Homo sapiens: one gene and its partners. The protein of the gene in region 3 interacts with the protein of the main gene of each other region in a pairwise test. Each region holds a gene or a part of one and is shown on either strand. Other genes may lie near its edges.

What was found.
Region 1: the proteins of DPYSL5 (region 3) and GSN interact in binary tests that used the Homo sapiens proteins (3 or more experiments, as listed by UniProt).
Region 2: the proteins of DPYSL5 (region 3) and HIP1 interact in binary tests that used the Homo sapiens proteins (3 or more experiments, as listed by UniProt).
Region 4: the proteins of DPYSL5 (region 3) and LAMP2 interact in binary tests that used the Homo sapiens proteins (3 or more experiments, as listed by UniProt).

What each region holds. Positions count from the first base shown.
Region 1 is NC_000009.12:121,327,141-121,333,349, reverse strand, and holds the end of GSN (gelsolin), read right to left. Parts: intron 6,043-6,209; coding exon 5,868-6,042; intron 4,460-5,867; coding exon 4,335-4,459; intron 4,113-4,334; coding exon 4,035-4,112; intron 1,963-4,034; coding exon 1,902-1,962; intron 917-1,901; coding exon 747-916; 3' UTR 508-746; downstream 1-507. UniProt on the Homo sapiens protein: Calcium-regulated, actin-modulating protein that binds to the plus (or barbed) ends of actin monomers or filaments, preventing monomer exchange (end-blocking or capping).
Region 2 is NC_000007.14:75,546,940-75,553,967, reverse strand, and holds part of HIP1 (huntingtin-interacting protein 1), read left to right. Parts: intron 1-378; coding exon 379-515; intron 516-4,966; coding exon 4,967-5,077; intron 5,078-6,154; coding exon 6,155-6,213; intron 6,214-6,935; coding exon 6,936-7,028. UniProt on the Homo sapiens protein: Plays a role in clathrin-mediated endocytosis and trafficking. Involved in regulating AMPA receptor trafficking in the central nervous system in an NMDA-dependent manner. Regulates presynaptic nerve terminal activity.
Region 3 is NC_000002.12:26,928,128-26,935,155, reverse strand, and holds part of DPYSL5 (dihydropyrimidinase-related protein 5), read right to left. Parts: intron 6,902-7,028; coding exon 6,833-6,901; intron 3,517-6,832; coding exon 3,472-3,516; intron 1,899-3,471; coding exon 1,823-1,898; intron 579-1,822; coding exon 422-578; intron 1-421. UniProt on the Homo sapiens protein: Involved in the negative regulation of dendrite outgrowth.
Region 4 is NC_000023.11:120,466,290-120,473,170, forward strand, and holds the start of LAMP2 (lysosome-associated membrane glycoprotein 2 isoform A precursor), read right to left. Parts: upstream 3,008-6,881; 5' UTR 2,881-3,007; coding exon 2,817-2,880; intron 1-2,816. UniProt on the Homo sapiens protein: Lysosomal membrane glycoprotein which plays an important role in lysosome biogenesis, lysosomal pH regulation and autophagy.

The DNA of each region.
Region 1 (6,209 bases), on a different chromosome or scaffold from region 3:
CTCTGTCACCCAGGCTGGAGTGCAATGGTGCAATCTCAGCTCACTGCAACATCCGCCTCCTGGGTTCAAGAGATTCTCCTGTCTCAGCCTCCCGAGTAGGTGGGATTACAGGCATGTGCCACCACGCCTGGCTAATTTTTTATTTTTAGTAGAGGCAGGCTTTCACCATGTTGGCCAGGCTGGTCTCGAACTCCTGATCTCAGGTGATCTGCCTGCCTCGGTCTCCCAAAGTGTCGGGATTACATGTGTGAGCCACCGTACCCGGCCCCTCCTTATTTCCTTTAGCATAGGTATCCCCCAGGACAATCTACACACCTCTCAACTCACTGTGGCATCGCCTCTCAGGGCACCAGGATTCACGCACAGGGTGGATGTAGCCTTTCTACTAGTTTACAGGCAAATGCTAGGCACCTCTCTGGCCATTCTCAGAATTACCAGGGACACAGGCAGAGAAGACGCCGGCTCTCACTGTCAGATGGGCACAAGGAAACGAGCCACACTAGAGTACACACTTCAAAATGTTTTTATTGGATTTAATTTCCCAAACACTGACATTTTAGACAATTTTGCAAGGACTCTGAATTTTTGCAGGGCTATTTTTGGATACTGTAAAAAAAAAAAAAAGAAACAACACACACACACACACACACTCATAGCAGAGCTGCTCTGCTCGCTCTAAGGCCTCTTTGAGGGAAGGACAGTTCCAAAAGGCACTGACCGGTGACATGGGTGGGCCCTGCCCCTCCTCAGGCAGCCAGCTCAGCCATGGCCCTGTCCAAGGGGTCCACAGACCAGTAATCATCATCCCAGCCAAGGAACCAGCCCACAAAGGAGGGAGGCTCAAAGCCTTGCTTCACCACGGTGATGGGCGTCCGCCGATCCCGATTGGCTGGGTCCGTCTCGATGTACCGCTTAGCTGCAGACACACGTGCAAGAAAAGGAAACCCCAGGAATTCTTAGTGCCTCCCACACCAGGGAGAGGGTGACTCAGGACAGGAGTTGACAAAGAAGAGGGTCTATGGTCCTACTGTCCCTACTGCCCACCCCCTGCCCTGGGCACCATCCTCCTTTAAAGGCATGATACCCACGTGGGCTCTCCACCACCCTGCTCAGGAACACAGGAAGGAACAGGGCTACGGCTTAATCTCCTGCTTCATAAAGCTTATTACTTTCCCTTGCAGTCCCCTACTGGAAGATATGGGAACCAACTTTTGGGTTCCCAGCTCACAAATCAGATCTATTCAGCTGCCAAGAATCTGCTTTGCAACATCTTTTTCTTTTTTTTTTTCATTTTGAGACACCATCTCATTCTGTCACCCAGGCTACAGTATAGTGGTGCGATCATGGCTCACAGCAGCCGTGAACTCCTGGGCTCAAGCAATCCTCTGACCTCAACCTCCTGAGTAGCTGGGACCACGGGTGTACACCAACACGCCTGGCTAATTTTTTTGTATTTTTTCTAGAGATGAGGTTTCACTATGTTGCCCGGGCTGCTTTCAAACTCCTGGGCTCAAGTGATCCTCCTGCCTTGGCCTCCCAAAATGCTGGGATTACATGCATGAGTCACCATGCCTGGCCTGCTTTGCCACATCTAAACCTTGACAAGTTCAGCTTCTGAGTATTCTGGGAACTTGAAGTGACTTCTCATCTGTCCCTTCCTTCTCCTGGAACAGAGGAGAGCCTTCTTTGAGAAGCCTCAGGGTTTCTGAAGGAACTGATGTGTTCTTCACTATCCCAGGCAGGATTTATGAGGGGCTGGCCCACAGAGGAGGAAGTCCCCACCCTATCTTGTCCATCAGTCCCCTGGAAAGATGCTCATTCCCAGACCTGTACAGGAGCCACTCCCAGCACCCCACAAGCAACGGACCCCTCCCCCCGCCCCCAGGCACTCGGGTCCTCACCAGAAGTCAAGGCTTCTGTCTTTTCTTCTTCTTGAGAATCCTTTCCAACCCAGACAAAGACCTGGAGGTGAGATGCAACAGGAAAGGTACATGAGGAGTGCTGATCAAATTCACGGCTGGAGGAAGACTGGGGAGGGGCCAGGTATCAGACCAGACAAAGCCCTCCCCTTTCTAACAGAGCCCATGAACTAAGACTGGAAGGATTTGGAACAGAGGTTGAAAACTGGCAACCTACAAACATGTTTTGTTTGCTCACCCACCACCTTGTGTTAGCCAACAATGTCTTTTTAAACCGTTATGACATAAAAATCTAGATTTCCAACTTCTCTTTAAAAATTGGAGGATCTAGCAGCCTGGGCCTTCAAACCTCACTTGAGTCAAGCTGCGCAGGAGCTGCCCCTTTGAGATGAGCAGTTCTAGTTTGCCTCAGACTCCACTGCTCCTTCACGTCTCCCCAGCCCAGCCTGCTTCATTCGCTAACATTGCCAACCAGGTACCATCAGGCATTGAGTTTGAGATTCTTCTCTAAAGGTCCATGAGTTATCTCTTGAACAGCATTCACTCGTTCAACAAATGAGTGGCCAAACATATTCTCACCCATTTATTTATCCAACAAATATGCACCGAGAGTCTACTATGTGCCGGTCTGTGTGCATCTTTGTCAAAATGGGCCTAAGGCTTGGAATAAAAATAACTCACCCACCACTATCACCATTTTGAGTCTTGTTACAAGTTCTATTACACATTATTTAGCTGATTTTTATGTATCATCTATTTTTATGCATATCTAAAATATTACTTCAAAGAGCACCTATCATTGATAAAATGGCATTAGACAATAAAATGTCAGACTTCATTTTTCTCACTTTTTTTTGAGACGGAGTCTCACTCTGTCACCCAGGCTGGAGTGCAGTGGCATGATCTCAGCTCACTGCAACCTCCGCCTCCTGGGTTCAAGTGATTCTTCTGCCTCGACCTCCCAAGTAGGTGGGATTATAAGCACCCACCACCAAGCCTGGCTAATTGTTTTGTATTTTTAGTAGAGATGGGGTTTCACCATGTTGGCCAGGCTGGTCTTGAACTCCTGACCTCAAGTGATCTGCCCACCTCAGCCTCTCAAAGTGCTGGGTTTACAAGTGTGAGCCAACATGTCTGGCCCTCTCTTACTTATTTATAAATGTGTTCCCAACTAAAGTGGAAGCCCCTCGAAGGCAGGCATTCTATTTTGCTCATCATAGGATTCTCAGCACTCAGCATTTTGCCTGCAAGACCATGGTGCTGAATAAATGTTGGCTGACTGAATCCCTAACAGATGAACAAACAGATTAAGTAGCCAATGGATCAATCAATGACAACTGCTGAATGGCTCAAGCTGCAATCATTTTTGGTCCCGATCTTCCAACTGGGGATTCCGAGCATCCCTGTGGGTAGTGTAGAGTCTTATGCCTTCGTGGCCAGCTGCTCCGTAACTCTGAGGACTCTGGGAGAAGCCACCTTGATAGGAAAGGTGACTGACCTGACACCCCTGTGAGAACGTAAGCCCTGGGAGAGCAGGAAAATGCCTACTTTATTCATTGCTCTATCCCAGCATCTCAAACATAAAGCACCTGGCACAAAGCAGTGCCCAATTAATATTGGTTGAGTAAGTGAATGGCATCTTCCCCTGCCAAGTCCTACATAATGGCCTTCTCTAGGAGATGAAGTGGAGACAGAGCCCAGAGCCCTCAAACCAGAAGCAGGAGCCCTCTAGAGCCTCTAGGTGACACTGGACAGTTTATGCCTGCAAACAAGATGCTGCTAAGTTCAACTTCCTCTGCCAACAGATTTAAAGGAAGAGTTCACGCTCCTGCAAGGTCTGGGAGAGAATGATGAAGGTCATGTGATTTGCCTTTATAGGGCGTTTTGCAGCTTTCAAGGTGAGTGTATCTGCAAGGGAGGTACCGCCACTCCCAGTTTACAGATGAGGAAATGGAAGCTCAGAAAGAAGAAGTGACTTCCAGTACCCTTAGAGACTTTTCTGGCAACACCTGGCACTGCCCCCTTTAGGTCCTTCTAGCAACTGATCATAGAACTGGAAGTCTAGTTTCTCCCACTCCCTCTGGCACAGAGAGCCTTCACCTGTCCTTCACCCACCTGGTCCCAGGTGTCCAGAAGCATGACGTCATCCGTTGCCAGGTCTTCCTGCATGAGCTCACCAGGAACCTCTTCGATCTGGGAAGGAACGAAAGAGCATCAGTGAGATGTCTTCCCTCCCCTGGGTGGCCTTCCTTTATCTGCCCCCTGAGGGAGTGGCACAGCTGGCTGCAGCTGGCAGGGGGCCCCTTCCTCTGTGCCACACCATCAGAACTGTTTCTCCTGCCCCTGCTGCCGGCCAGTCCTGTGGAACTCGCCTCCCGAGGGGAAAGCAGAGGTGTGACCTCCGCAGGGGCTCACCACAAAACGTCCAATCTTGTTGGAGCAGGCAAAGAGGCGAGGAGGATGGGCATCCATCTTCTTGTCCTTCAGCCGTGGGGATGTGCGGTAGGCAGCCTTCCCGCCCAGGGCCTCCCAGAAGCCATCTGTGAGGGGAGGCCACGCCAGTTGCCAAGGGACGCCATCACCCCTCTCTCCCATCTCATCGGACCCTGGGACCAGCCCTGCCCAAGCGCAACCAACTGCTCTCCCTCTCCTCCCTCCATCCTAAAAATCCCAGGAGATCCAGAGGGAAGAGGCCTGAGGGAATTGGAAGGTGACGAAATAGAGGCCCAGAGAGGGCAGACTTGGCAGTAGTCACACAGCCAGGACCACTATTGGCTTGAGGCTGACGACAGCATTGCGGGATGAGGACCATTAGCTCCACTCAGCTAATGAGGCAGTTGTGGCTCGGAGAGGTTAAGCAACTCACTCAAGGTCACACAGATGGTAAGTGTTAAGACCAGGATACAAATCTTGTCTGATTCTAACACCTATACTCTTTCCACTATACCTGCTCTGTCCATGTGCAGCCATTTAAATTTAAATTCATTAAAATTAAATTCGACTAAAAGTTCAGTTCTTCATTCCCACTAATTCCCACTGGTCGCATTTCAAGTGCTCAACAGCCACATGTGACTAATGGCTGTCAAATTGGACTCGGCAGATACAGAACATGTCCATCTGCATAGAAGGTTCTGCTGGACAGAGCTGCTTTAGACCAAGTCACTCTTCACCATTTCTGTTAAGCATCAAGCAGGTGGGAATGAACTCAAAGTAACAGTATAAAGACTGCAGGCTGGCAGAAGGAAGAGCTGCCCGGCCCACATTCTGGAAACAGAGCAGGCTGGTGGCATTTCTGTCCATGGAGAGTCTAGAGATGCAAGGAGACCACTGCTCCTCTGACGCTATCAGCCCTGCCTACCACCTTTCAAGGCTTCCTAGCGAGGGACCGCCTCCTTCCACAGACCAACTGCTCCTTCCCACACTGGGCTCTCCTTTCTTTCTTTCTTTCTTCTTTTTGAGACAGAGTTTTACTCCTGTTGCCCAGGCTGGAGTGCAATAGCGTGATCTCAGCTCACCGCAACCTCCAACTCTCGGGTTGAAGTGATTCTCCTGCCTCAGCCTCCCGAGTAGCTGGGATTATACAGGCATGTGCCACCATGCCCGGCTAATTTTGTATTTTAGTAGAGATGGGGTTTCTCCATGTTGGTCAGGCTAGTCTTGAACTCCCGACCTCAGGTGATCCGCCCGCCTTAGCCTCCCAAAGTGCTGGGATTACAGGCATGAACCACCACGCCCAGGCTAGGCTCTCCTTTCTTTAGCTCCTGGAGACCTCCCTCTCTCTGGCCACAGCCCTCATTTTAATGCAACTGCTTTTATTTAACATACATTAGGGGACAGGCCCTCAGGTGGGATGGAGGGGAGGATTTAGAGCCCCCAAGCTGAAGGAAAGAAGGGGGAAACTTAATAGCTGCATCCGGACAGCAGCAGGCCCCCCACCCCGGCTCCTACCTGGCTCGCTGCCTTCTGCCACCTGCACAGGTTGGGCCCGCAGCACCCTGAGCAGCTCCTGGGCCCCCGTCTTCTCTGCCTCGCTGGCTCCTGTACCCACCCACAGGTAGGCGGCTGAGGGGGTTTTCAGAACAAAGGCATCGTTGGAGTTCAGTGCACCAGCCTTAGGCAATACCTGGGAGGGTACAGCTTGGTTAATCAGGAACCAGACAAAAAGCCCTCAGCCCCCTCCTCACAGCCCAGGAGACCCCGCAGCAGGACTAGCTCTCAGGTGGGGACTTGGAGGAACACAGCCCATCAGAGCTGAGGGCACAGACTTTGGACCCTGATGGCCTTGGTTGA
Region 2 (7,028 bases), on a different chromosome or scaffold from region 3:
TTCAAGAACAGCCTGGCCAACATGGCAAAACCCCATCTCTACTAAAGATACAAAAACGATGGGCCAGATGCAATGGTTCACGCCTGTAATCGCCGTAACACTTTGGGAGGACGAGGTGGGCAGATCACCTGAGGTCAGGAGTTCGAGACCAGCCTGGCCAACATGGCGAAACCCCGTCTCTACTAAAAATACAAAAATTAGCCGGGCATGGTGGCGCACCCGTAATCCCAGCTACTTGGGAGGCCGAGGCAGGAGAATCGCTTGAACTCAGGAGGCGGAGTTTGCAGTGAGCCGAGATGGCGCCACTGCACTCCAGCCTGGGCAACAAGAGCGAGACTCCATCTCAAAAAAAAAGTGTCTATTGCCTTGTATCTCCAGCACTGACCGAGGCCTGTAAGCAGTATGGCAGGGAAACCCTCGCCTACCTGGCCTCCCTGGAGGAAGAGGGAAGCCTTGAGAATGCCGACAGCACAGCCATGAGGAACTGCCTGAGCAAGATCAAGGCCATCGGCGAGGTACTTGGAGTAGTATCATTGAGGAGCATTGTTATTCTTCTGGGTGTGCGTGCTGGTGAATGGCCAGGGAATCGGTGATGTTCTGAGCTAGTTCTTTCTGCACTTAGAACTTGATTCTAGAAAGAGATTGTTAAAATTGGAAAATCTGGCCGGGTGCAGTGATTTATGCGTGTAATCCCAGCACTTTGGGAGGCCGAGTCAGGAGGATCACTTGAGGCTAGACGGGATGGCTCACGCCTGTAATCCCAGCACTTTGGGAGGCTGAGGTGGGCAGATCACTTGAGGTCAAGAGCTAGAGACCAGCCTGGCCAACAGGGTGAAACCCTGTCTCTACTAAAAATACAAAAATCAACCCAGCATAGTGGTGCATGCCTATAATCCCAGGTACTGGGAGGTGGAGTCAAGAGAATTGCTTGAACCCAGGAGGTGGAGGTTGCAGTGCACCGAGATCATGCCATTGCACTCCAGCCTGGGCATAAGAGTGAGATCTATCTCGAAAAAAAAAAGGATCACTTGATCCCAGAAGTTTGAGACAGGCCTAGGCAACAAAATGAGACCCTGTCTCTTTAAAAATTAAAAAAAAAAAAATTTAAAAAGGAAAAACCTCCTGAAGGACTTTCCAGCTATATTTAATTCACTGGCTGTTAGCTGAGAATCTACTATGTTGTCATCATTACACTAGGCAATATCAAAGAAGTATAGGCAGCTCCCCTGTCTCTGAGGATTTTTATCTAGGTGGGCAGGTAATACCCAAAATGGAAATAACACTGTGTTCATTCATTTACTAAAGATGTAGTGCCGAGCATGGTGGCTCACACCTGTAATCCCTGCACTTTGGGAGGCCGAGGCAGGAGGATCACTTGAGGCCAGGAGTTCAATATCAGCCTAGGCAACATAGTGAGACCCTGTCTCTACAAAATAAAATTTTTTTTTTAATTAGACAGGTGTGATGTCACGCACCTGTAGTCCCAGCTACTCGGGAGGCTGAGGCAGGAGGATCGCTTGAGCCCAGGATTTGGAGGCCACAGTGAGCTATGATTGTGCCACTGCACTCCAGCCTAGGCAACAGAGTGAGACCCTGCCTCTGCTATAAATAAATATGTCCTGTATACCAGAAATTGGGTTAAGTATATATAGGGACAGAGAAGACATGGACTCTATGGAAAAGAAAAATAAGAAAACCATTTCTATGCAGTACAGTTTTTTTTCATTTTTTCCCCAGTGTTATGAATTGGAATATATTGGTTAAGATACAAGGATAGGGCCAGGCACGGTGGCTCACGCCTGTAATCCCAACATTTTGGGAGGCCGAGGCAGGTGGATCACCTGAGGTCAGGAGTTCTAGACCAGCCTGGCCAACATGGCAAAACCCCATCTCTACTAAAAGTACAAAAAATTAGCCAGGCGTGATGGTAGGCGCCTGTAATCCCAGCTACTTAGGAGGCTGAGGCAGGAGAATCACTTGAACCTGGGAGGCTGAGGTTGCAGTGAGCTAAGATCGTGCCTTTGCACTCCAACCTGGGCAACAGGAGCGAAACTCCACTCAAAAAATAAATAAAAAATAAAAGCCATGAGGATAGACTGTCTAATTGGAGTTCCAGAAGAAGATAATAAAAAGACCACATCCAGCCAAGGTGGGTGGATCAATTGAGGCCAGGAATTTGAGACCAGCCTGGGCAACTTAGTGGCGCCCTGTCTCTACAACAAATTTAAAAATTGGCCGGGTGTGATGGTGAGCACTTTTGGTCCCAGCTACTCAGGAGGCTGAGGCAGGAGGATCACCTAAGCCTGGGAGCTCAAGACTGCAGTGAACCGTGTACTCTGCAGTGAATTGCAGAGTGTACTCTGCAGAGTGGTTCACCTGCAGTGAACCACTGTACTCCAGCCTGGGTGAGAGAGTAAGACCCTGTCTCTAAAAAGAAAAAATAAAAAGATCAGGGCCAGGTGTGGTGGCTCACGCCTGTAATCCCAGCACTTTGGGAGGCTGAGGTGGGTGGATCACTTGAGGCCAGGAGTTTGAGACCAGCCTGGCCAATATAGTGAAACTCCATCTCTATTAAAAATACAAAATTAGCCAGTTGTGGTGGCTAATTTTGTAATCCCAGCACATACCTGTAATCCCAGCTACTTGAGAGGCTGAGGCAGGATAATCCTTTGAGCCTGGGAGGCGGAGGCTGCAGTGAGCCGAGATTGCACCACTGCACTCCAGCCTGGGCGACAGAGTGAGACACTGCCTCAAAAAAAAAAAAAAAAAAAAAAAAAATTATCATCTACATCTTTGCCTCCCTAAATAATAGAGTTAGTTTCACATGATATAGACTACAGGTAAATGGAGTCCTACTGTATATATTCTTCTACAACTGGCTTTTTCACTCCACATTCTGTGAGATTAATCCAAGAAGATAAATTCATTTTCACTGCTCTCTCATTATCTATTGTGTGAATATCGCTTAATTCATCCGTCTGTTCTCTTGGTGATGGACACTTGGGTTATTTCCAGTTTGGGTTGTTATTAATTTGCCCCTATGATCATATATGCACACATGTCAGTTTCTCTAGAGTATATACATAGAATCAGAATTACTAGGTATTAGGATGAATCTCACACATAGAATGTTGAGTGAAAAATCAAGTCATGGAAAAATATATACAGTAGGATTCCTTTTATATAAAGACTCAAACATTCAAACTTAATAGGGATGCATCTATGTGGAATTAAAAAATAATAATAATAAGACAGGCCAGGCATAGTGGCACATGTCTGAAAATCCCAGCACTTTGGGAGGCCGAAGCGGGAGGATCACTTGAGGCCAGGAGTTTGATACAGCCTGGGCTACAAAGCAAGACTCTGACTCTACAAAAAAGTTTAAAAGTTAGCAGAGCCTAGTGGTGTGTGCCCGTTGTCCCAGCTACTCAGGAGGCTGAGGCAGGGAGGATCACTTGAGCCCAGGAGTGGGAGGCTGCAGTGAGCTATGATCGCACCACTGCACTCTAGCCTGGGCAACAGGCTTTTATGTTTTGTCTTTAAAAAATAAAAATAAAATAAGACACAACAACCACGCTCTTGAATTCTGTGTCTCTTGGGGTAGAAGGCAGGGAGTAAGGGAGATAGAATCAGGGCACATACAAGTTCAAATAGGATTCCAAAGGTATTGATGTTTCTTACAGCATTCCTTAAGTTTTAAGTTGGGTGGTGGATAACATGCGTCTTTATTCTTATCCTTTGAACCATTCATATATATTTTATACCTTAGTATGTATAACACATCATGTTTTAAAAATCATAGGCTTTGCTGTTTGTCAGACCTTAGTTCAAATCCCTGCCCTGCCATTTGTTACCATAACTGTGGTCAAGACGTTCTACCTCTGATCCCTGGCTTCCTATCTGCACAGTAGGAATAATACCCGCCTCATATGATCACTGTGGAAGCAAAGTTAAGTCAGGGTCAAAGTGGAAGATATCATCTGTATTTGAAAAAGTTGTAGGCCAGGTATAGTAATTCAATCCCAGCACATTGGGAAGCCAAGACAGGAGGATCACTTGAGCCCAGGAATTCAAGACCAGCCTGGGCAACATAGTGAGACCCCATCTCTATTAAAAAAAAAAAAAAAACAATTATCCGGGCTTGGTGGTGCACCTCTGTACTCCCAGATACTCTGGTGGTAGAGGTGGGAGAATTGCTTGAGCATGGAAGGTCGAGGCTGCAGTGAGCTATGATCATGCCACTGCACTCCATCTCTGGTGACAGGGCAAGACTGTGTCTCAAAAAAATAAAAAATTAGGGCCAGGTGTGGTGGCTTACACCTGTAATCCCAGCACTTTGGGAGGCTGAGGCAGGAGGATTACCTGAGGTCAGGAGTTTGAGACCAGCCTGGGCAAAATAGTGAAACCCATCTCTACTAAAAATATAAAAATTAGCTGGGCATGGTGGTGCAAACCTGCAATCCCAGCTACTTGGGAGGCTGAGGCAGGATAATCCCTTGAGCCCGGGAGGCGGAGGCTGCAGTGAGCCGAGATTGTGCCACTGTACTCCAGCCTGGGCAACAGATTGAGACTCTGTCTCAAAAAAAAAAAAAAAAGAAAAGAAAAGAAAGAAAGCAAAAGAAAAAGAAAAATTGTAAAAAAATACCTCCTGTGTAGCTAGTACAATTGACACTGCACAACTAAGGGACTGGGGTCTTAGTGGTGGCGGAATGGCCTTGCAGGGGGAGGCAGCGATGGCATTCTGGAAGGAGGTGGATCCTGAGTGAGGAGGAGCATGAGGTTCCAGAGTTTGTGTCACAGAGAGGACAAGATGGGGTCTGCAAAAGACCCCCCCACAACCCCTGTGGCTTGCAGAAGGTGTTTGCTGGGTGGCCTCCTGCCTTGCCATCTTGTAAGGGTTACAGATGGCAGAGGAGAAGAGACAGGAGGCCCCAAGGTCAGTTCAGCCTTTGTGATGTGTTCACAGGAGCTCCTGCCCAGGGGACTGGACATCAAGCAGGAGGAGCTGGGGGACCTGGTGGACAAGGAGATGGCGGCCACTTCAGCTGCTATTGAAACTGCCACGGCCAGAATAGAGGTAGGAGGTTCCTGCAGGATCTCCTGAAACGATGCCTTTGCAGCTGCCCTTCTGCAACACTGCTCATTAAACATGTCACAGTCGTTCATTAAGGCCATGGCAACCCCCTAAGACAGAAACCAGAATTTGCCAGGCACAGTGGCTCATGCCTGTAACCCCAGCACCTTGGGAGGATCACTTGAGTCCAGGAGTTTGAGACCAGCCTGGACATCATAGCAAGACCCCATCTCTACAAAAGATAAAATAATTAGCTGGGCATGGTGGTGCATGCTTATAGTCCCAGCTACTCCAGAGGCTGCAGGAGGATCACTTGAGCCCAGGAATTGGAGGCTACAGTGAGCCATGATTGCACCACTGCACTCTAGCCTGGGTGAGAGAGTGAGACCCTGTCTGTAAAAATGTTTTTAAATTATAAAAAAAAAAAAGAGAGACCAAAATCTGAACTCGCTAGTTTTTCTGAGTGATAGAAAATGAGAAGGTCCTCATGAGAGAAGGTCCTCATGAGAGAAGGTGATTAGTTTCCTCAAGAATCAGATACTTTGGTGTCAGAACATCCTGGGTTCTGGCCAGGCGTGGTGGCTCACGCCTGTATTCCCAGCACTTTGGGAGGCCGAGGCAGGCAGATCATGAGGTCAGGAGTTTGAGACCAGCCTGGACAACATGGTGAAACCTGGTCTCTACTAAACATACAAAAATTAGCTGGGCGTGGTGGCGCGTGCCTGTAATCCCAGCCACTCAGAAGGCTGAGGCAGAAGAATCACTTGAACCCAGGAGGCGGAGGTTGCAGTGAGCCGAGATCGTACCGCTCACTCCAGCCTGGGTGACAGAGTGAGACTCCATCTCAAAACAAAACAAAATGACACGGATCACAGAGCCAGCCCACTGCAGCTGCACTCCCCCTGAATAGGTTAGAGTCTGGATTCTTTTCTGACTCTCTCAAGAATGTGGGCAGGGACTTGGGGACTTCCAGATTCAGGTTTCCCAGCTACCACACGATGTTGGACTGAAAGTATAGTAAGACATTAGTGGATCCTTAATATTCAAGGCACATTTAGAAACCATGCTTCTTTTTCACAGGAGATGCTCAGCAAATCCCGAGCAGGAGACACAGGAGTCAAATTGGAGGTGAATGAAAGGTCGGTCTGAGCGGCATGGTGGGACCTAGGGGAGCAGGATCTGTCTTCCTGACATTGGTCTATACTTTGCATACTTATTAGGGAATTAGAGGAGAGCAGTAGCAGCCACGGGGAAGGGCTGAGTTGATGTAATCATCAATAACAGTATTAATGATGACAGCAATATTGCTGTTTCACTATAGAAAAGAAACCCGCGCGGTAGCTCCCGCCTGTAATCCCAGCACTTTGGGAGGCTGAGGAGGGAGGATCACCTGAGGTCGGGAGTTCGAGACCAGCCTGCCCAATGTGGTGAAAAGTCATCTTTACTAAAAATACAAAAATTAGCCAGGCGTGGTGGTGCATGCATGTAATCCCAGCTACTTTGGAGGCTGAGGCAGGAGAATCACTTGAACCTGGGAGGTGGAGGTTGCAGTGAGCCAAGATCGTGCCTCTGCACTCTAGCCTGGGCGACAGAGCAAGACTCTGTCTCAAAAAAGAAGAAAAGAAGTCCTAGGAATCACAATTTCACTATTCCTTACGATGGAGACCCACAATTAGATCTCTCTCACTCCCCAGCCTCTCCTTCGGTGCCTCCCCGCAGAATGTTCCAGCAACCTCAGCACCCTTCTTACCTCCCTTTCCCATTCCAAGCTTGCCTTTGGCTAGGAGTGGGGAAGAGAACCGTCGTGTTCATTGATCTTGGATCTTGATCTCAGTGTATCCTCGACTTGTTTGTTTGGCAGGATCCTTGGTTGCTGTACCAGCCTCATGCAAGCTATTCAGGTGCTCATCGTGGCCTCTAAGGACCTCCAGAGAGAGATTGTGGAGAGCGGCAG
Region 3 (7,028 bases):
ACCCACAGAAGGAGGGATGTACAGACAAGGGGCACACGGGAGCCAACAAGAAGAGGGAGAGGTGAACAAAAGAAACAGAAAGGACCCCTACATTCTAGGATAAGTCACAGGCCACGTTCTGCAGCTCCCCACTGGGCTTTAGAGTAAGAGATCAATGTCCTTTGAAATTCCGAATAACCACGGTTCACAGTTCTATATGTGCTCTTCACTCTTATACTTCAGAAGATCTCACTCCATATCAAGCGGTCATAAAATCCCAATAGGATGGCAATTATCTGATGGGCTCAGAGAAGGTAAGAAAAGCACAATGATCCTATGGGCACAATGAAATCAAACCTAGCTCAGATTTGTTTCCTGGGCCCTCTATGACGTCTTCCTAAAGATGTACACATCCCTGCAATGTGCTGCTGAAACGCCTTACTTGGCCAGCAGGCTCATGAGGTAGGTTGAGGTGTTGGTGTCCAGTCTCAGGGGAGGCACCGTGACATAGGCAGCCGCGTGGGACCAGTCCTGGTGGTAGTAGTGTAAGCCTGTCAGCGTGGCATGTGCAGTGGTGGTCTCCGCCAGCACAACCTTCCCTGGAAGAAGAAAGGTCAGAACCATAACCAGGAAGCCACCGAACCTGAGCGATCGCTGGTGTGTGCCTCTCATTTTACAGGTGAAGGAGCTGAGGTCAGAGACAGGAAGGGACCTGCCCAAGCTCACAGGGCTTTTAAGAGCACAGCTGGGTTCAAGCCCAGAGAGCCTCCCTATTCTGCTGACTTAGGCAAGGAGGACAGAGGGACATGGGCACCGAGGCCCAGCAGGACCAAGCGGCACTTTGAGGAGTCTGGTTTGGCCAGATGACCAGAGCACTGGTGTGTGCAGGGTGCTGTTGGCAGATGGAGCTTGACGGTGGGTGAACAGGCATGCAGGGCCACGAATGCCACGCTAAAGAGCAGTCTAGACTGTTTTCTGGACAGGCAGTTGCTGTGAGCAGCTTCAAGAGAACGGTTGTGGTAGGACAGGGAGGGCCGTAGCAGGGCTGGAGGACAGGGAGACAGGAGGTGGGAGCAGTCACCAGGCTGGGACGACAGTCTAGGCGAGACCCTCCAAGGGGCTTCAGTGAGGGGAGAGGCAGGTGGCGGGATCTAGAGGGCGATAGAGTTGAAGGCCAGGATGCCCTTGCTTCTGATCGATTATAGTTGAAGGCTGAGATGCCCTTGCTTCTGATCTGTCTCCCCAGGCTTGTGACTGTGACTTTGTTTCTCCTGCTGCCAGGCCCTCACCAGCACCTGGGGCGGGGCTGGACTCCAAGCATCTGCAAGCCTTTAGGTACTGCCAGGCGATCCGCAACAGAAGCCATACAAGTGCCCCTCGGACTCATACACAGGGTTCCAGGAGGCTAAAAGGAAGCTGGGCCCACACACTGTTCTTTCTTTAGGGACTTCCCAAACAGCCCCTGAAATGCCCACTGAAACTGGTCCAGCATTTTATGTTAGTTGCCAAGGCAACTGCTAGTAAAATCTATGAGGCCAAAAAGACACTAATTAATGAGTGGGTTTAAAACTTGGAAAATGTTACCAGACCCAGGAGAAGTGACAGACACTTCCGTAAAGCTGTTATGCATACAAATTTGCAGAAGAAAAAGCTCATGTTCTAGCAGACTAAAGCCAGCATAGCACAGGGCAGCTCTGAGGAAGACGGTGGCAGATGAAAGGGAAGGGCTGGCTCAGGTCCTGGTTTCAGGAGCCGGGGCCAGGAGTGAGCACGGCTAATGGGCCCCATCCATCTCCAGTCCCTCCACTTGACCTGCTCTGTCCAGCCAAGTCTATGGACTCACCTTGCATCTTAGCAGCTGCGATAACGTCACCAGCCGAGATACTGGACACGTTGACCAGGTAGATTGGACAGTGAGTCTAAACACAAGAAACAGTGGGAAGTAGGGAGGGTTGACCCATAAACTTCACAAGCATCAGAATAACCCTGGCAAAGTCAGCCCTGGCACCAGCGCCTCCCCCTGCGTCACTCAACCCCACCCTCAAGGTGACAGTCCTTAAGCGGAGAATGCAGGGCTGGCAGTCAGGGCAAGGTTGCAGGAACTGCATGATACGGGGAGGCAGAGAACAGCCTCCAGCACCAGAGCCCACCGGGAAGCCCAGCCTGTGAAGTTCAAGACCGTCAAGTCTGAACCTCGCATTTTCTCCCATCTGACAACCATGACTGTAATTTAAAAGGGGGGAACTCTTTTTCCTATTTTAATTTCCTGTTCATAAACGTGATGACCTAGAGTTAGTCGTGTATTCTGTATCTAAAATTACGATGCCTGCTGTCTGAAGGCTGCTTATCAGTAGACAGAATGCACCCTGGAGATGAACAAAATACAAGGGGGTTAGGGTTCAGAGTCTAGGCAAGAGAAGGCTGACCTTGCGAACGGACACCTGGACTGTAATACTGGTTAGCTTTTTCTCTACTAAGCTGTGCAACCACGGTCCATGGCTTAACTCCTCTGAGCATATGCTTGAGCTAAAAGGCAAGGAACTGACTTTTTGTTGTTTGGGTCTTTCCTTATTCTGGGTTAAGTTCCACCAGGAAGTAATTGATAAATAACTATTGTCATGACAGTGAAACAATGTCCTTGTCCAGCGGCCAGAGCTCTAAAGTGCAATTGGGAAATTCTGTTTCCCCAGATGTTATTCTGTTCTCTTTGCTTATCACATTAGGAGGATGTAGAGTTTAGGAGCTGGACTGAGTTTACACGTGAGCAATGAACTGAGCTTCAGCAGGCTCGGCGGGGTGGAATGGAAAGCTGGTGGTGAGAAGGGTGAATGCAAGGATGGTGGGCATGACAGCGCTCAGTCAGCAAACAGCTCTGGGTTCCTGTGGGCAAGACATGGTGCTGGCACCCAGAGCAGAATGGGGCTGCATCGTAGAGGTTGGTTTTCTTTCTTTCTTTCTTTCTTTCTTTTCTTTCTTTCTTTCTTTCTTTCTTTCTTTCTTTCTTTCTTTCTTTCTTTCTTTCTTTCTTTCTTTCTTTCTCTTTCTTTCTTTCTCTTTCTTTTTTCTTTTCTTTCTTTCTCTTTCTTTTTTCTTTTCTTTCTTTCTTTCTTTCTTTCTTTCTTTCTTTCCTTTCTTTCTTTTCTTTTCTTTCTTTTTTTTTTTTTTTTTTTGACAGAGTCTCGCTCAGTCACCCAGGACAGATTGCAGTTGGCACGATCTTGGCTCACTGCAACCTCCGCCTCCTGGGTTCAAGCAATTCTCCTGCCTCAGCCTCCTGAGTAGCTGGGATTACAGGTGCACGCCACCACGCCCAGCTAATTTTTGTATTTTTAGTAGCAATGGGGTTTCACCATGTTGGCCAGGCTGGTCTCAAACTCTTAACCTCAGGTGATCCACGCACCTCGGCCTCCCAAAGTGCTGGGATTACAGACATCAGCACCGTGCCTGGCCAAGGTTGGTTTCTAATCCCACAGTGGACATCGGGGGACTTACCCTGTTTGCAATGGTGATAACACGATGAGTGGCTTCAGCTTCCAGCTGTTAGAAACAAAGGACAGGAGGAAACCAAACTTCACCATCTCCTCCAAGGATACCCACACCATACTCTCCCCTTCATGGAGCAACTGCACCCATAGGGGTTGGCTCGGGGCAAAGCCCGGGCAGAGGCACTAACCTCCAACTACCTTGGCTCACAGTGAGGGAGAATTCTAGGTCTTACAATACCAGGCACGCCCTTGCTGGATGCTACTTGGGGCTTAATTAAAAGGCAAGGAAACAAAAGTAAATAAAAACCCAAGGTCATGTCTCTCCTTGTTTTCTGGTGTATTCTCTCCATAGCCACCTCAGAACTGCAGCAAAGGAGAAATAGTGGCTGATTTGACTCCGGAAATTAGCCTAGATTAGGGTTTCTGCGCATGGTACTATTGGCATTTGAGTTGTATAATTCATATATATATATATATATATATATATACACACACACACACACACACACACACACACACACATATATATATATATATATTTTTTTTTTTTTTTTAGATAGGGTCTCACTCTGTCTCCCAGGCTGGAGTGCAGTGGCATGATCATGGCCCACTGCAGCCTCCACCTCTAGGGCTCAAGCGATCCTCCCACCTCAGACTCCTGAGCAGCTGGGACTACAGGCATGCGCTACCATGCTTGGCTAATTTTTTTTTTTTTTCCCAGACGGAGTCTTGCTCTGTCGCCCAGGCTGGAGTGCAGTGGCGCAATCTTGGCTCACTGCAAGCTCCGCCTCCTGGGTTCACACCATTCTCCTGCCCCAGCCTCCCGCGTAGCTGGGACTACAGGCGCCCACCACCATGCCCGACTAATTTTTTGTATTTTTAGTAGAGACAGGATTTCACCATGTTAGCCAGGATGGTCTCGATCTCCTGACCTCGTGATCTGCCTGCCTTGGCCTCCCAAAGTGCTGGGATTACAGGTGTGAGCCACCATGCCCGGCCCATGCTTGGCTAATTTTTAAAAAGTTTTTGCAGAGATGGAGGGGGTCTCCCTTTATTGCCCAGGCTGGTCATAAACTCCTGGGCTCAAGCAATCCTCCTGCCGCAGCCTCCCAGTGCTGGGATTACAGGTGTGAGCCACTGCACCCAGCCGAGTTGCGTAATTCTTTATGGTGGGGGTGTCTGCGCATTGTGGGATGTTTAGCAGTATCACTGGCTTCTGCTCGCTAGATGCCTGTAGCATCCGCCCTGCCCCCCAGGTTGGGACAAGCAAAAATATCTCTAGATATTGTCAAATTTCCCCTGGGGAGCAACATCTCCCCTGGCATAGACCCAGGGCCCTCCCACCTTTAACCAATAGATAATGGCGGTGATAATTATTGGTATTACGACCACAGCCAAAGCCTTGCTCTTTCCCTTGTATTAAGTAACAAAGAAAGTCTAGTGTGTGTGTCCACCCCTTGCTCTCTCCTGTTCTCACAGGCATACCCTCTGTGTTTCAGTCGAATCTGGTGTGTGTTTCTCTACCAATTCAGAAGTGCCAAACAGGACCTATATTCAAGGGCTCTGAAACACAGGCACTGATCAGGGCAGTGAGGGGGCACTCCTCAGCGGACCCACTCGTGGGCCAACTTGGTTTCTGGGTAATGGCAGTGCCACCACATCCTGTGTCCTGCTCCTTGTCCCTCGAGGCCTCCCCCTCAATCCCTCATGGATAACCAACCACCCATCTGCATTTTTAGGCTTTGAAGAAATGAGAAGTTTCTCCCCCTCTTCTAAAACAGTAGAGAATGTGTAAACAGGGTAATAGGGCAGGAATGCGTTATTCGTCTAATGTGGTCCCTCTAGAGCAGAATTCTTTAGCAGGGGGACTGTAGGGGATTTGTGTCAATGCCATGCAAAACTGTGCACAGGGATAAAGCCAGAGGGCAGGCGGAAAACAGCTTTGAATGACCATCTCAGCAGGTAATGAGGGGGAGGAGCATAGACTTGTATGTGTCTCCTGTTTTTGGTGGAAAGGGTCCAAAGCGGCAGTCCCCAACCATTTTGGCACCAGGGACCGGTTTCGTGGAACACGATTTTTCCACAGACCAGGACAGGGATGGGGCAGTGGTGGTGGGAAATGGGGAGGGATGGTTTCAGGATGAAACTGTTCCACCTCAGGACTGGGCACGGTGGCTCACGCCTGTAATCCCAGCACTTTGGGAGGCTGAGGTGGGTGGATCACTTGAGGTCAGGAGTTCGAAACCAGCCTGACCAGCATGGTGAAACCCCGTCTCTACTAAACATACAAAATTAGCTGGGTGTGGCGGTGCATGCCTGTAATTCCAACTACTTGGGAGGCTGAGGCAGGAGAATGGCTTGAACCCGGGATGCAGAGGTTGCAGTGAGCCGAGATTGCGCCATTGCACTACAGCCTGGGCAACAAGAGCGAGACTCCATCTCAAAATAAATAAAATAAAATAAAGAAAGAAACTGTTCCACCTCAGATCATCAGGCATTAGTTAGATTCTCATAAGGAGCGTGCAACCTAGATCCCTCGCATGTGCAGTTCACAATAGGCTTCACACTTCTATGAGAATCTAAGGCCACCACTGATCAGACAGGAGGTGGAGCCCAGGGGGCTCTCAGCTGGCCCGCTGCTCACCTCCTGCTCTGCGGTCCTGTACCGGTTCATGACCTGGGGGTTGGTGACCCCTGGTCCAAAGTATTCCTCAGATGCTCAAAGGAATGTCATCCCCCAAAGGCAGAGTTTATAGTTTGAAATTTCTTCTAACACCTGAAGGCCTTTTCAGTCTGTCTTTTGTCTCTTGATTCAGTTTTGGGCACAGCAACCCCAGGTGTGCTGACATTGTCTCCCCTAGATCCTTGAAATCAGAATCAAATGGAAATTTCACCCGTGGAGAAAATGATGCTATACACACACACACACACGCACACACGTATGTGTGTGCGTGTGTGTGCGTATATATATGTATGTGTGTGTGTGTATATATATATATATATACTCTATCACCTTGGCTGGATTGCAGTGGCATCATCACGGCTCACTGCAGCCTCAACCTCCTGGGCTCAGGTGATCCTCCTGCCTCAGCCTCCCAAGTAGTTAGCTGGGACTACAGGCATGCACCACTATGCCCAGCTAATTTTTTTTGTATTTTTAGTAGAGACGGAGTTTCACCATGTTGCCCAGGCTGGTCTTAAATTCCTGGGTTCAAGCCATCCACCCACCTCAGCCTCCCAAATGTTGGGATTACAGACATGAGCCCTTGTGCCTGGCTAATTTGTATGTTTGATGTCTCCTCCATCCTGGAAGATTCTGTCAATCTACATGAGAGACGCTGACAAAGGCTACAGGAAGTGTTTCTCACCTCCTCTGGACGGCTGATCTCGATTCCTTCTGGGCCTGTGATCCCCAAATCCAGTGCCTCCTTAGCACCCTGGATAACAGCAAGAGAAAGAAAATGGAGAGAATCACAGAGACACCGTGTAAGAAAATACTGAACCCAAGGGACAGTGAAATATGCTAGACACCGCCTGTTTCAATAGGCTTGCTTCTTTTCTCAC
Region 4 (6,881 bases), on a different chromosome or scaffold from region 3:
TGAAAGCCAACAAGTAGGACAACTATTATTTTTTTCACTTTCCCAAAACAATAACAGTGTTGTATTTGTGCACAGATTCAATTGGCAGGGAACTACTGATTAACAGATGCCTTGGTCAGATGTGTTCTAGTCACTGATAAGGTACTTTCCATTGTAAACAATCCTTTCTTAGGGTCAGTTGGCCCTCAGTAAGTGCTCCAAGGTACAGTTAAGGCTTCCAATTAAGTATTCAAGCAAAGCCTGCCTCAAGGCCGCCTTTCAGAAGTGCTACAGAAGAGTTTCCTGCGCGCTGTGAACAGTTGGACTACATCAGGGATTCCCAAAGTTTTGGTGTCAGGACCCCTTTACTTTCTTATCCACTGAGGACTTCACAGAGGTTTATGTGAGTCATATGTATTGGTATTTACAGTATTAGAAATTAAAACTGAGAAATGAATAAAATATAAGAACATCAGAGTGGTGAGGTCATCACATGTTACGTAGCCACTGGAAAACTCTGCTGTACACTGGTGAGAGGATGAGAGTGAAAAGGACAAAGGACAAATAACTTCTTTTTTTTTTTTTTTTTTTGAGACAGAGTTTCGCTCATGTTGCCCAGGCTGGAATGCAGTGGCGCAATCTTGGCTCACCGCAACCTCCGCCTCCTGGGTTCAAGCGATTCTCCTGCCTCGGCCTCCCAAGTAGCTGGGATTACAGGCATGTGCCACGACACCGGCTAATTTTTCTATTTTTAGTAGAGACTGGGTTTCACCATGTTGGTCAGGCTGGTCTTGAACTCCTGATCTCAGGTGATCCGCCCGCCTCAGCCTCCCAAAGTGCTGGGATTACAGGCGTGAGCCACTGTGCCCAGCAGAAAAGGACAAATACCTTCTTAACCTTATTCCGAAGTTTTGATTTCACAGACGCATGAAAAGGTCCTCGAGAGTCACTGAATTAGATAATCAAGAACCCTTCCAATACTATGGTTTTCGAGCAGGATTTATCAATGTTGGCACCATTGACATTTTCAGGGAGATGATTCTTTGTTGTCAGGGGCTGCCCTGTGCTTAGTTAGGATGTTTAGCAGCATCCTTGGCCTCTACCCACTAGATGCTAAAAGCAATCCCCCAGTTGTTACAACCAAAAATGTCTCCAGATGTTGCCAAATGTCCCCTGGTTGAGAATCACTATTCCAGGGTGTTGATTTCATTCTACTGAAATGTGAATTACAAAATGTATACCTCTCACTGCTTTCTCAGACCCCTAATATGTCTATTTCTTCCCCACTCCCATCTGGGTCTGTTCTTTATGTTATTTTATTAAGTCACAAATAGCAAGAGCAGGTGGGTAGCAACAAGCACAGCATGAATCAAAGTCAGGAAGAGACACTTTAGTCAAAGTTCACTTTTAGGCATTAAAGTTGTTAGCGACCCACTGCCTATTAGGGCACAACACAATCAGCGAACATTCACCCAGCCATTTATTTATTGATTTATTTATTTTTATTTTTTGAGACAGAGTTTCACTCTTGTCGCCCAGGCTGGAGTGCAATGGCGCAATCTTGGCTCACTGCAACCTCCGCCTTCTGGGTTCAAGCGATTCTCCTGCCTCAGCCGCCCAAGCAGCTGGGATTACAGGCATGTGCCACGACGCCCGGCTAATTTTTGTATTTTTAGTAGAGACGGGGTTTCACCATGTTGGCCAGGCTGGTCTTGAATTCCTGACCTCAGGTGATACACCCACCTCGGCCTCCCAAAGTGCTGGGATTACAGGCATGAGCCACCACGCCCGGCCCCATCCAGCCATTCTTAGGCCCTGGTAACAACCCAATCCTTAGCAAGTTTGTCTACCTGCTCCCTGCACCCCCAAAATATGAGGTAATAGGCTAGCTGTGTGATGGGGAAGAAAGAAAAGAAGAAACTCTGAAGGCAAAGAGGTAGTCTACCAAACTCAAATACTCCACCCCCAAAACCTCACATCTGGGAGGCCCTCCTAACTGAAACGTCTGGGGATTTTTTTGTCAGCGTCTGGCTGGGAGGAAGTAGCAAAACTGGGAGAAAATCGACATCCTCAATACCTCCAAGTCAGATGTGCACTCCCCATCAAAGTTCCCCCTGAACCCCTTAGTCTCCAGAGGTTGGGTCCAAGTTTTCTTTCCTGGAAATTGCCCCAGCTACCTTAGGTTCCTTCGCCCTTAAAACTATGACTACCAAACTCAAACCCAGCATCACTCCTAATCTCTTGAATCATCCTTTCTTCACAGTCTCAAATTCCAACCTTCAAAATGCCCAACCCTGTCACTGCCCCTGCCCCTCAGGCTCTACTGTCCTATCTGTCCCATCTGTCCCCCACCCACACACTTCTCCCAAGCTACTCCAGGCAGGCATGGTCTTCTCTCTTAATTTCCTATCTCACCCCATAGTTTTTCCACCATCTTCAAAACTCTTCCCTGATCTCAGCAAACCAAGACTCTCCTAATTGTCTCTGGCGCCCAAAATCTGCATGTACCACCCTCCTACGCTCACTCCTCAGTGTTTTCCCCAAGTTACTCTTTCCACGCTGACCCTCTCCACGCTTCACTCCTCCCAGCCTACTCCCTCGGCGTCCACCCCCCGTTACCGGCCCCTTCTTACTCTCCTGGGCCCTTCTTCCCCGCCATCCGTCGGTCAGGCCTTCTCTAGGTCACCGCTTGCCTCCCCGGGCCAACCGCCGCCGCCCAGTGTTAGCTGCTGAGCCTCTCAACCCCCTCCCCCTCGGACCAGTCTTTCAGGTTGTAGCTTTGAACTGGTGCCCCGGGCCCAGGCGGACAGACTAATCGGGAGGGCCCGACAACTCACCCAGGACTAGGCAGACCAGAACGAGCCCTGAGCCCGGAACCGGGAAGAGGCGGAAGCACACCATGACCCCGCAGAGCAGGCGGCGACGGCGGCGACGGCGGCGGTACAACAACAGCTGCAACACCAGGGAAAAGGCTCGCTGGACCTGGGTCAAGAGCACTGATGACCACCGACCACAGCCTTGCAAAAGCCAGGAATCGGCGCTTCAGTGCGAGTCATAAGACTAGGGGCGGGGCTCTTTCTTGCTTACAGCCAATCTCCGCGCTTGAAAGCGGCGAGAGGGGTGGTGATGTAGCGGCCGGTGGGCGGGGCGACCACGCCCTGGCTTTTTGGTTCACAGCCCTTCCTATGCTCCTGAGAGATATGCGCGGACGGCATTTTCTTTTTCTTTTTCTTTCTTTTTTTTTTTTTTTTTTAATTTTACTTTAAGTTCTGGGATACATGTGCAGAATGTGCAGCTTTGTTACATAGGTATACATGTGCCATGGTGGTTTACTGCACCTATCAACCCGTCATCTAGGTTTTAAGCCCCACATGCATTAGGTATTTCTCCTAATGCTCTCCCTCCCCTTGGCCCCCACCCCTTGACAGGCCCCCGTGTGTGTTGTTCCCCTCCCTGTGTCCATGTGTTCTCATTGTTCAACTCCCACTTATGAGTGAGAACATGCAGTGTTTTGTTTTCTGTTCCTGTGTTAGTTTGCTAAGGATGATGGCTTCCAGCTTCATCCATGTCCCTGCAAAGGACATGATCTCATTTTTTTATGGCTGCATAGTATTCCATGGCATATATGTGCCACGTTTTCTTTATCTAGTCTATCATTGATGGGCATTTGGGTTGGTTCCAAGTCTTTGCTATTGTAAATAGTGCTGCAATAAACATACGTGTGCATGCGTCAAATGGTATTTCTGGTTCTAGATTTTTGAGGAATCGCCACACTGTCTGCCACAATAGTTGAACTAATTTACACTCCCACCAACAGTGTAAAAGCATTCCTATTTTTCCTCAGCCTCGCCAGCATCTATTGTTTCCTGATTTTTTAATAATCACCATTCTGACTGGCGTGAGATGGTATCTCATTGTGGTTTTGATTTGCCTTTCTCTAATGATCAGTGATAATGAGCTTTTTTTCATGTTTGTTGCTGCATAAATGTCTTTTTTTGAGAAGTGTCTGGTCATATCCTTTGCCCACTTTTTGATGGGGTTGTTTTTTTCTTGTAAATTTGTTTAAGGTCCTTGTAGATTCTGGATATTAGACCTTTGTCAGATGGGTAGATTGCAAAAATTTTCTCCCATTCTGCAGGTTGCCTGTTCACGCTAATGCTAATTTCTTTTGCTGTGCAGAAGTTCTTTTAATTAGATCCCATTTGTCAATTTTGACTTTTGTTGCGATTGCTTTTGGTGTTTTAGCCATGAGGTCTTTGCCCATGCCTATGGCGGACGGTATTTTCTAAGGCTAAGGAGAGAGGAGGAACTTTTGAGGGCCGTAGATAGTAGACTATTTCCGTTTTGGCTCCTTGACAAAGAAGAGAAAAATTTTGCGGGCACAAAAACGGTTGCTAGGCATCTCAAACGTAATACATACAAAAATAATACATGCTTATTCTCCAAACACTGTTGTTACCTATGCAGTTCATGCTGTGAGATGGACGAGGGAACCTAGGGGGTAGTATGGAGTCACGGACCATCGGAACAAGACATGATCTTGAAATTCACCTAGTTACAGCACCCTGTTCTCAGGTGGGGGAATTGAGCTCAGAAACAAGAAGCATCTTTTTTAAACACAGGAAGAAAAAAATGAGAGAAATAAAACAGAAGGATAAAGCGGAAAAATAGAGATCATCTGTATTCCTACTATTAACATTATTATATATATTTACACACATATATACACACACCCACATCTATACTTCCAGATATTTTTCCTATGTACATACACACAAATATTCTGTAATGAGTTCATACTAAGCATACTGTTTGCTATACTTGATAGATGAACAGACAAAACCTAAAATATTCAACAGATGAAAGCATTTAAAAATCTTGAGTTGGAATAAAGCACTGATTCTCAAGTGTTAGTTTCCAAAAGAACCATCTGGTTTTGGGTTTTTTTTTTTTAACATACAGATTCCTGTACCTCATTCCCCAGAGATTCTGAAACAGTAGGTCTGTGGCAGTCTTATTAATCACTTCTTTAACAAACACCCCAAGTGATTCTGATTCTGTGGTCCATGGACCACACTTTGAGAAAAACACTGAAAGAGAGCTTCAAAATCATCTAGTCCAGGAGATTTTAATCTGGAGTTTATGTATGAGTTTAGACAGGATGGGAGAGGTGTCGGTGAATCCTCAGAAATTACATGCAACATTTATGTATGTGTATTTTTGTGGGGAAGTTTGTAGTTTTCACTAGTTCTCCAATGGGACCTGTGACTCCTTGCCCTAACCCCTACCCTAATTCAAATATTAAGAAGCACCGATCTGCCCCACTATTGTTTGCTTTAATGTAATTAATTCCTGAAAGTGAGAACATTTGTCAATGAATGTTTACTACCATAGGTGAAACTAATTTGTGAACAAGTGACCCAACACAAGACTAATGAACACTGCATACAGTGTTAGTCATTGCCTTTAGCAAAATGTCTTTTGACTGCCATCAATGAGACTTGGCAGGAGCTATGTCCTGGGCATAGTAGTCTTCAGAGAACCCACAACTGAGTTGAGCCCTCTGAAGATGCCCCACCAATACTTCCTGGACTCTAGCTCTTCTCTTTCAATTGTAAATCGCATAACTTTAATGTTCAGTAAAACCCTAAGCTCTTTCTATAAGAAGAAACAAAAAAAGAACATAGTGGAAAGAACATTGGGTTAGCAGTCAGAGGAGTTGGTTGTGAGACACCACTTACTGGCAGTGTGATCTTAGGCAGGTCACTTCATCTGTTTGAACTTCTATATCTTTATTGGTAAAATGAAATAATGAGACTAGAGCTGTTTCTTGATCCTGGCTGCATGTTGGAATCACTTGTGGAGCTTTAAAAGTGGAAAATTCCCCTTGGTCCCATCCCTTGAGATTCTGATTCAGTTTATCTGAAGTCAGGCCTGGGCATGGTGTTTTTCTCAAAACTCCCCAAAACAATATTGGTGGGCCTCAGATGATCTCTAAGTTGGCATCAGGTTTATAATTCAAGGATTCTATGTGAGTAAATGCTCATTTATTTAAAATTGGCCAGGTGCAGTGGCTCAAACCTGTAATCCCAACACTTTGGGAAGCCAAAGCAGGCAGATTGCCTGAGCTCAGGAGTTTGAGACCAGTCTGACCAACATGGTGAAACCCCATCTCTACAAAAAATTAAAAATTAGCTGGGGGTGGTGGCGTGCACCTGTAGTCCCAGCTACTTGGGGGCTGAGGCAAGAGGATTGTTCAAGTCCAGGAGGTGGAGGCTGCAGTGAGCCATGTTTGCACCACTGCACTCCAGCCTGGGTGACAGAGCAAGACCCTGTCTCTGAAAATATATGTATATATTTATATATAAGGATAGCCAGCCATGGTGGTGCACACCTGTAGTCCCAGATACCAGGGAGGCTGAGATGGGAGGGTCGCTTGAGCCCAGGAGGTTGAGGCTGCAGTGCTCTTTGATGGCGCCACTGCACTCCAGCCTATGCAAATGAGTGAGACCCTGTCTCTAACAATTAAAATAAAATAAAATACTGTCCCAATTTGTCAAATATCTGGTGTAATAAATTGTCGCCCTTTATCTCTTGAAGGTGTCATCAAATTAAAAAAATAAACACAGTGAAATATGAGCAGCCTTACAAGCGAAATCCACCCTCACCCCCATCACAACCTTTTCCTCAGGCAAATACAAATGCTGGCTCCTTGACTGGGACAGGCATCGTCGTGAGACACAACAATGTTTTGAAAGTTGTAGATACATGCTGGGTATTTTGTCAGCATAAATAGGCTAAAAATTCTCAAGTCTTTGTTTGCACTGAGCTTCCATACTCAGAAATGTTTAATGTTTTCTCCAAAAAACACTGTGAGAAAGATCCCTTTTCTTATACAGTCT